Linked DNA regions of Homo sapiens. The protein of the gene in region 1 purifies or fractionates together with the protein of each later gene. This does not show direct contact. Each region holds a gene or a part of one and is shown on either strand. Other genes may lie near its edges.

Evidence for each region.
Region 2: the proteins of FOXM1 (region 1) and CCNB1 purify together in Homo sapiens (affinity purification with western blotting; 4 studies listed by BioGRID, with this or other methods). This does not show direct contact.

Annotation. Positions count from the first base shown.
Region 1 is NC_000012.12:2,863,675-2,867,174, forward strand, and holds part of FOXM1 (forkhead box protein M1), read right to left. Parts: intron 2,848-3,500; coding exon 2,719-2,847; intron 1,726-2,718; coding exon 1,681-1,725; intron 1,272-1,680; coding exon of another isoform or gene 1,211-1,271; intron 1,082-1,210; coding exon of another isoform or gene 1,079-1,081; coding exon 1,009-1,078; intron 822-1,008; coding exon 646-821; intron 1-645. UniProt on the Homo sapiens protein: Transcription factor regulating the expression of cell cycle genes essential for DNA replication and mitosis. Plays a role in the control of cell proliferation. Also plays a role in DNA break repair, participating in the DNA damage checkpoint response.
Region 2 is NC_000005.10:69,170,150-69,173,649, forward strand, and holds part of CCNB1 (G2/mitotic-specific cyclin-B1), read left to right. Parts: intron 1-1,120; coding exon 1,121-1,303; intron 1,304-3,500. UniProt on the Homo sapiens protein: Essential for the control of the cell cycle at the G2/M (mitosis) transition.

The sequences.
Region 1 (3,500 bases):
GAGACCCACAGCGTCTAGCCTCAAATCCACTTCTTTCTTTTCTTTTTTTTTTTTTGAGACAGAGTCTCGCTCTGTCACCCAGGCTGGAGTGCAGTGATCTCGGCTCACTGCAACTTCCCTTCCTGGGCTCATGTGATTCTCCAGCCTCAGCCTCCCAAGTAGCTGGGATTACAGGCATGTGCCACCAAGCCCAGCTAATTTTTGTATTTTTTAGTAGAGACGGGGTTTCGCCACGTTGGCCAGGCTGGTCTCAAACTCCTGACCTCATGATCCACCTGCCTTGGCCTCCCAAAGTGCTGGGATTACAGGTGTAAGCCACAGCGCCCGGCCAAATCCATCTCTTTCTAAGGCCTGCCTCCCTTGTGTATCTTCCTTAATAATCCTAGCCCATCTATCACAATCACTTTTGTCTGAATTCTTACAAGCTCATCAGGTATTTATGGGCCTTCTGACACCACTTACATTGTAATCCAAATACCTTTTTAGCTCTTCTAATGCTATTACACTTCCCTATGTTTTTATGCCTTTTCTACCCAACTAGATTTATAAGCTCTCAAGGAACACTTATCAGAGTGCTTTGCAAGCTGAAGGTCCAACATTCTTAATTGGCCAGAATCTCTCTTCAGAGGAAAATAGGACACCCACCTTGGGGGCAATGCGGACTCGCTTGCTATGGCGGGCAAGCTCTGAGCTCATGAGGGAAGCCGCCAGGGGCAATGGCACCTTCACCGAGGGCTGCAACACCAGTGACTGGTTCACCGGGAACTGGATAGGTACCAGGTATGAGCTGACCCGTGGTAGCAGTGGCTTCATCTTCCGCCCTAGGAGGAAACACGAGAGATCAGGAGCAGGGGGACTGGAGTACACCCCTTCTCAGCCCCAGGAGCTTTGCTCTCCTTCTCTGGGCTCAGATCCCTTTGAGGTGGGAACAGAATCCCAGAGTCTGGTTCCCTAAAGATATGGCCCCAGAACAAGGACCAGGCCCAAGGCCCACTCTCCCATACTAACGTGCGCCCAGGGGGAGTTCGGTTTTGATGGTCATGTTCCGGCGGAGCTCTGGATTCGGTCGTTTCTGCTGCTGCTTGTGGCAGATGGGGAGAGAAAGAAACCTATGTTAACACAATAAGGTAAAGAGGGGATGGCAAAACCCCACCAGCTGCTCTGGTGGTGTGTGCTTGAGTTAATGACAGCCCAGAGAGAGGAGGCCAACCTGAGGGGATGGACGTAGGCGAGCAGTCTCCAAAACTGTGATGAGTGGGCAGGTGGGTGGCCTACAGACACATGATGGCAGAGTGGCACTACCGCTTCACCCACGTGTCCTCAACACCCCTGGGGGATGCCAGAGCAGGTAGCTATATGCGTGGCAAAGAAAAGCTAGGCACAAAAGTGAGCGAACGAACTGCCGCCCCTGAGGCTGGTGCCATGCGCTTGTGGCTGCTGCAGCATGCTCCCCTGCTGTGCCCTGCTCTGCTCAGTGTGCCCTTGTGATGCCCATGGAAGGGGAGGGAAGTGGGTGTGTGCCTGACCCTCAGGGTGTTCTGTGTCTAGGGCTGGCACCTAGACAAAACATGGCCATAGGGACCCTTCCCCACATCACATCTTGTCTCTGTCCACTAAAGCCATGCTGAGCAGTGAAAGGAAAACAAGGCCAAGCCCCGAGCCAGAGGGAAAGAACCTTACTGATTCCAAGTGCTCGGGCAATTGTGGAGACCCTGGGTCCAGTGGCTGGTGGCGGCCAGGCATTGTGGGAGAGAAATGAGATGAAGTTACCACCAACGTGGTCAATTTGACCGGATTGGGAAAAACACTTATTCCTGACTGATGACAAAAGACACCCCAGACAACTGCCCCTCCCAGGAGAATGGTTACAGCTACCAGCAGCCTTATGGGCACTCTGAAAAACCAAAATAACTTCTTTCTGAAAAGACGTTCTGGTAGCTCAGCTTCTGGTCTCCAGCCTAAGGCAGGCTTTTTTTTTTTTTTTTTTTTTTTTTTGAGACAGACTTTCACTCTTATTGCCCAGGCTGGAGTGCAATGGTGCGATTTCAGCTCTCCACAACCACCGCCTCCTGGGTTCAAGGGATTCTCCTGCCTCAGCCTCCCAAGTAGCTGGGATTACAGGCATGCGCCACCACACCCAGCTAATTTTTGTATTTTTAGTAGAGACGGAGTTTCTCCATGTTGGTCAGGCTGGTCTCCAACTCCCGACCTTAGGTGATCCACCTGCCTCAGCCTCCCAAAGTGCTGGGATTACAGACGTGAGCCACCACACCCAGCAGGAAGGGCTTTTTTTAGAGCAAGCATTCCCAGAATTTCTTGTAAGAATCACCTGAGATGCTTGCTAAAAATACAAATTCCTGGGCCCATCCCAGAAGCACTAAATCAAGAGCCCCAAGAGAGGGGTCTGGGAAGCTGTGTTTTAACAATGTCCCAGGCAATTCCCATTCACAGGGAAGTTAGGAAAACACTGCCCTGGGGAGCCCTTTCTGTTGGGTCAGAACAGCCTTCTCCTTGCTCTGGTCTGGCACAAAAATGTGTCATTTGGTATTTGTCAAGTGTACTTAATTCACTGGGTTTTGTGCAAGTCACTAATTGGGTGGCTGGCTTCTAACTCTCCCCTGATCAAATGAAAGCATCACTAGCAGAACTTGTTTCCTTTTGAGATGGCTATGACAACCTCCAACTTAGGCCCTATTTAGAGGAAAGCAGGGCATTCACCTTAAACACCTGGTCCAATGTCAAGTAGCGGTTGGCACTGGGGTGAATGGTCCAGAAGGAGACCTTGCCATTGGCAGACGTCTCCCGGACAAACATGTCGTGCAGGGAAAGGTTGTGGCGGATGGAGTTCTGGAAGAAGAGCAAGACAACTGGTTATCAGCTACTTTAGATTCAGAAACATCACCCTTCAAACACATGGGGAAACCAGCCTCAGGCCCCTCCCACTGTGCTCAGCACAGGCTTCGTCTGGTGTCTTTGCAGCCCTCTTGGCAACTCTCCTGACACTCCACACCGCAGAGCCGTCACCTTCAGCCATAAACCCATCTATTCTACGGGAATAAAGACTGATGCCAACCTTAGATTGTGATAAAGAAAAGACCTAGATAGCTGTCAGGGGCTAGAAAAGCAGAGTAAGGCTGTGAGGTAGTGATCAATAGCAAGAAAGGTGGCTCAGAGAAATTAAGAAACTAGGGAATTAGGCCCGGCGTGGTGGCTCACGCCTATAATCCCAGCACTGTGGGAGGCCAAGGTGAGTGGATCACTTGAGGCCAGGAGTTTGAGACCAGCCTAGCAAACATGGTGAAACCCTGTCTCTATCAAAAATATAAAAATTAGCCAGGCATGGTGGCGCATGCCTTTAGTCCCAGCTACTCGGGAGGCTGAGGCAGGGGAATCACTTGAACCTGGGAGGCAGAGGTTGAAGTTAGCCAAGATCATGTCACTGCACTCCAGCCTGGGTGACAGAGTGAGGCCCCGTCTCAAACAAACAAACAAGAAACTAG
Region 2 (3,500 bases), on another chromosome or scaffold:
TTTTTTTATTTTTAGTAGAGATGGAGTTTCACGATGTTGGCCAGGCTGGTCTCGAACTCCTGACCTCGTGATCTGCCTGCCTCGGCCTTCCAAAGTGCTGGGATTACAAGCGTGAGCCACCATGCCCGACCTTATTTCTTTACTTTGTCTACTAAATTCAGAGTCCTTTGAGGATGCCATGAAGTCAATGCCTTGTAGAGTTTGACTTCAAGAAGGTGCTCAATAAATGTTTGAACAATGGGATAAAGGGAGCTTGAAGGAAATGGTTAATGGCGATGAAGTTAGTTAATCCTTAGTAGTCAGGATAGAATTTGTGTTGAGTAGTGAGAAGCAGTTTATATTATGAAATAAAGACTAAAGACTGAATTGTCATTTATTTGGACTAACTTCACATGTTGCTGATAAAAATTAATTACTTCTCAGTTTCCTTTGCAGCAAAGTCTAGAATGTGAATTTATTTGCTTCCAACTTTAAACTGACTCACTCTAAGTTGGCATTTCACTGTTTTTTTTTTTGCCCAGGCTGGAGTAGAATGGCGCAATCATAGCTCACTGTATCCTCAAACTCCTGGGCTCAAGTGATCCTCCTGCCTGGGCCTCCTGAGTAGTTAGGACTGTAGGCAGCTGCCTTCATGCCCAGCTAATTTTTTGTAGAGATGAGTTATTGCTATATTGCCCAGGCTAGTCTGGAACTCATGGTCTCAAAGGATCCTCCCACCTCAGCCACCCAAAGTACTGGGATTACTGGCTTGAGCTGTTATGCCCAACCTCATTCTTTTTAATTGAGGAATTAAATGATCACTTTTTTCTTTTTTAACAGAGACAGGGTTTTGCTATGTTGCCCAGGCTGGTCTTGAACTCCTAGCCTCAACCTCAGCCTCTCAAAGTGCTGAGATTAAAGGTGTGAGCCACCGCGCCCAACCCAAATGATCACTTTTGATGTTAATCACTTCCTAAAAAGAAATGGAATAAATCTGAAAAGATACTTTTCCTTTAAGGAAATGAATTGTATGCCGATTCAGCAGAATACTAGCTTGAGTTGGTACCAATAACCTGAACTTCATGCCCAAACTATAGTGCTTACTTCTATTTGCTATTTCAAGATATCTCTTTGTTTCAAGGTTGATACTGCCTCTCCAAGCCCAATGGAAACATCTGGATGTGCCCCTGCAGAAGAAGACCTGTGTCAGGCTTTCTCTGATGTAATTCTTGCAGTAAATGATGTGGATGCAGAAGATGGAGCTGATCCAAACCTTTGTAGTGAATATGTGAAAGATATTTATGCTTATCTGAGACAACTTGAGGTAAGTATTATCATTCGTTTTTTTTCTAAACTGCATCTAACTTTATGAAAGTATTTTCCATCAATAGTTTATAATAATACAAGCAGGACGTGGGCAGCATTTCTTAAGAGATCGCACTTTCAAATTCTCCTTCATGGAATACCTATAATAAAAAGTCACTAAATAAACCAATGGAGTCTATTTGTCACTTTGTGCAGGAAAGTTCGAAGTTAGGGTGGATACTACTATCGCTTTCTAAAGGAAAATCCACAGATTGAATTTGATATGTATATATGCGATCTCCACCACGTTTGGAATGGTTAAGTCCCAAACTCTGCATTTTAGGTGATAACGGGTCAGGAAGTGGATGAGGATGTAGAATATACTCAAAGACTACAGCCACCCCTAACACAAGGCATTTTGTGTTAGTGTGGCTGATGTGCATCCAGTTGTTGGTGAAATTATTTGTGCCCAAAAGGAGTACACTCAAAAGCTACTTTTTTGGTTCACTTCAATTTGATCCCACTTTTGAAACTTTCTATTAATGGCATTTGCCCTTTCCCTACAAATACAAGCACTCTTTATGGCAGCATAAACATAGTAACATAAATTATACTGTTACCACATTTACGTAGTTTTTTTGTTGTTGTTGTTTTGTTTTTTTGAGATGGAGTCTCACACTGTCGCCCAGGCTAGAGGGCAGTGGTGCGGTCTCAGCTCACTGCAGTCTCTGTCTCCTGGGTTCAAGCAATTCTCCTGCCTCGGCCTCCCAAGTAGTTGGGGTTGCAGGCACACACCACCATGCCTGGCTAATTTTTTGTATTTTTATTTGGTTTTGGTTTTTTTGAGACAGGGTCTTGCTCTGTTGCCCAGGCTGGAGTGCAGTGGTGCAATCTCGGCTCAGTCCAGCCTCCGCCTCGGGTCAAGTGATTCTCATGCCTCAGCATCCCGAGCAGCTGGGATTACAGGTGCCCACCACAACACCCAGCTAATTTTTGTACTTTTAGTAGAGATGAGGTATCACCATATTGGCCAGGCTGGTCTCGAACTCCTGACCTTAGATGATCTACCCATCCCGGCCTCCCAAAGTGCTGGGATTACAGGCCTGAGCAACCGCACCCAGCCCCCAGTTGTTTCTAATGTGTTGTCTTATGTCATCACTGACATGTTCATCTCTTGCCTGCTCCTTTTTGGCCTCTCCTTTTTCTATAGGATTCTTCTGCAAGACTTCTTTGCCAGGAGCAGCCTTCTGCTTTTAGTTTCTTCTTCCATCTTTCTAGTGCTTTTTAAAGTTGTGTTCTAACTTTGGAGGATTCAATTTAGTAAATGTGCTGTTTCTTTTTTTTTTTTTTTTTTTTTTGGGACAGAGTCTCGCTGTGTCACCTAGGCTGGTGTGCAGTGGCACAATCTCGGCTCACTGCAAGCTCTGTCTCCCGGGTTCACGCCATTCTCCTGCCTCAGCCTCCTGAGTAGCTGGGACTACAGGCATCCGCCACCACGCCTGGCTAATTTTTTATATTTTTAGTAGAGACGGGGTTTCACCGTGTTAGCCAGGATGGTCTCAATCTCCTGACCTCATGATCCACCCGCCTTGGCCTCCCAAAGTGCTGGGATTATAGGTGTGAGCCACCGCGCCCAGCCTGTAAATGTGCTGTTTCTTGATGCTTCGTTCTTGTTCTGTGCAAGGCCATTTATGCAAAGCAACCCCTCAAGTGGCAGAGGAGCTGAGAAACCAAGGAATTAGGCAGATAAATGGAGTTTGCTGGTATTGGGTGACTGATGAGGGGGAATTTACAGACATAAGTATGGTCTTTGATGGCTGTAAGATGTAGATCTCTGCACTGTAACCCCTCGTACCCACGGCTTGGGTATGTATACATTTTCTTGGGCAAAGTATACATGCTCTAGAATCAATGTGTGGGTGGCTGACAGAATGCTGCAGACATCACAGCCTATAATGTATACAATAATATCAAGGGCTGTTTTGGAGGAAAGGCCAAACTTAAAGTGAATAGGCAGAAGTCACATTGAATTAGTATTTAAAATAAAGTCACTGTTGTCCCCACAGTTCTTAGCTATGTTGCTGTTGGGATTTAACCCAGGAGCAGGCAGGAGTGTTGTAGTACATGGGTTCCAGCTGCCCTGGGAGTTACTGATATTTTCTCTACATAAAGCTCAGGTTCTAAGTTTAGAGGCTTAAGTGAAAAGATCTGAGATG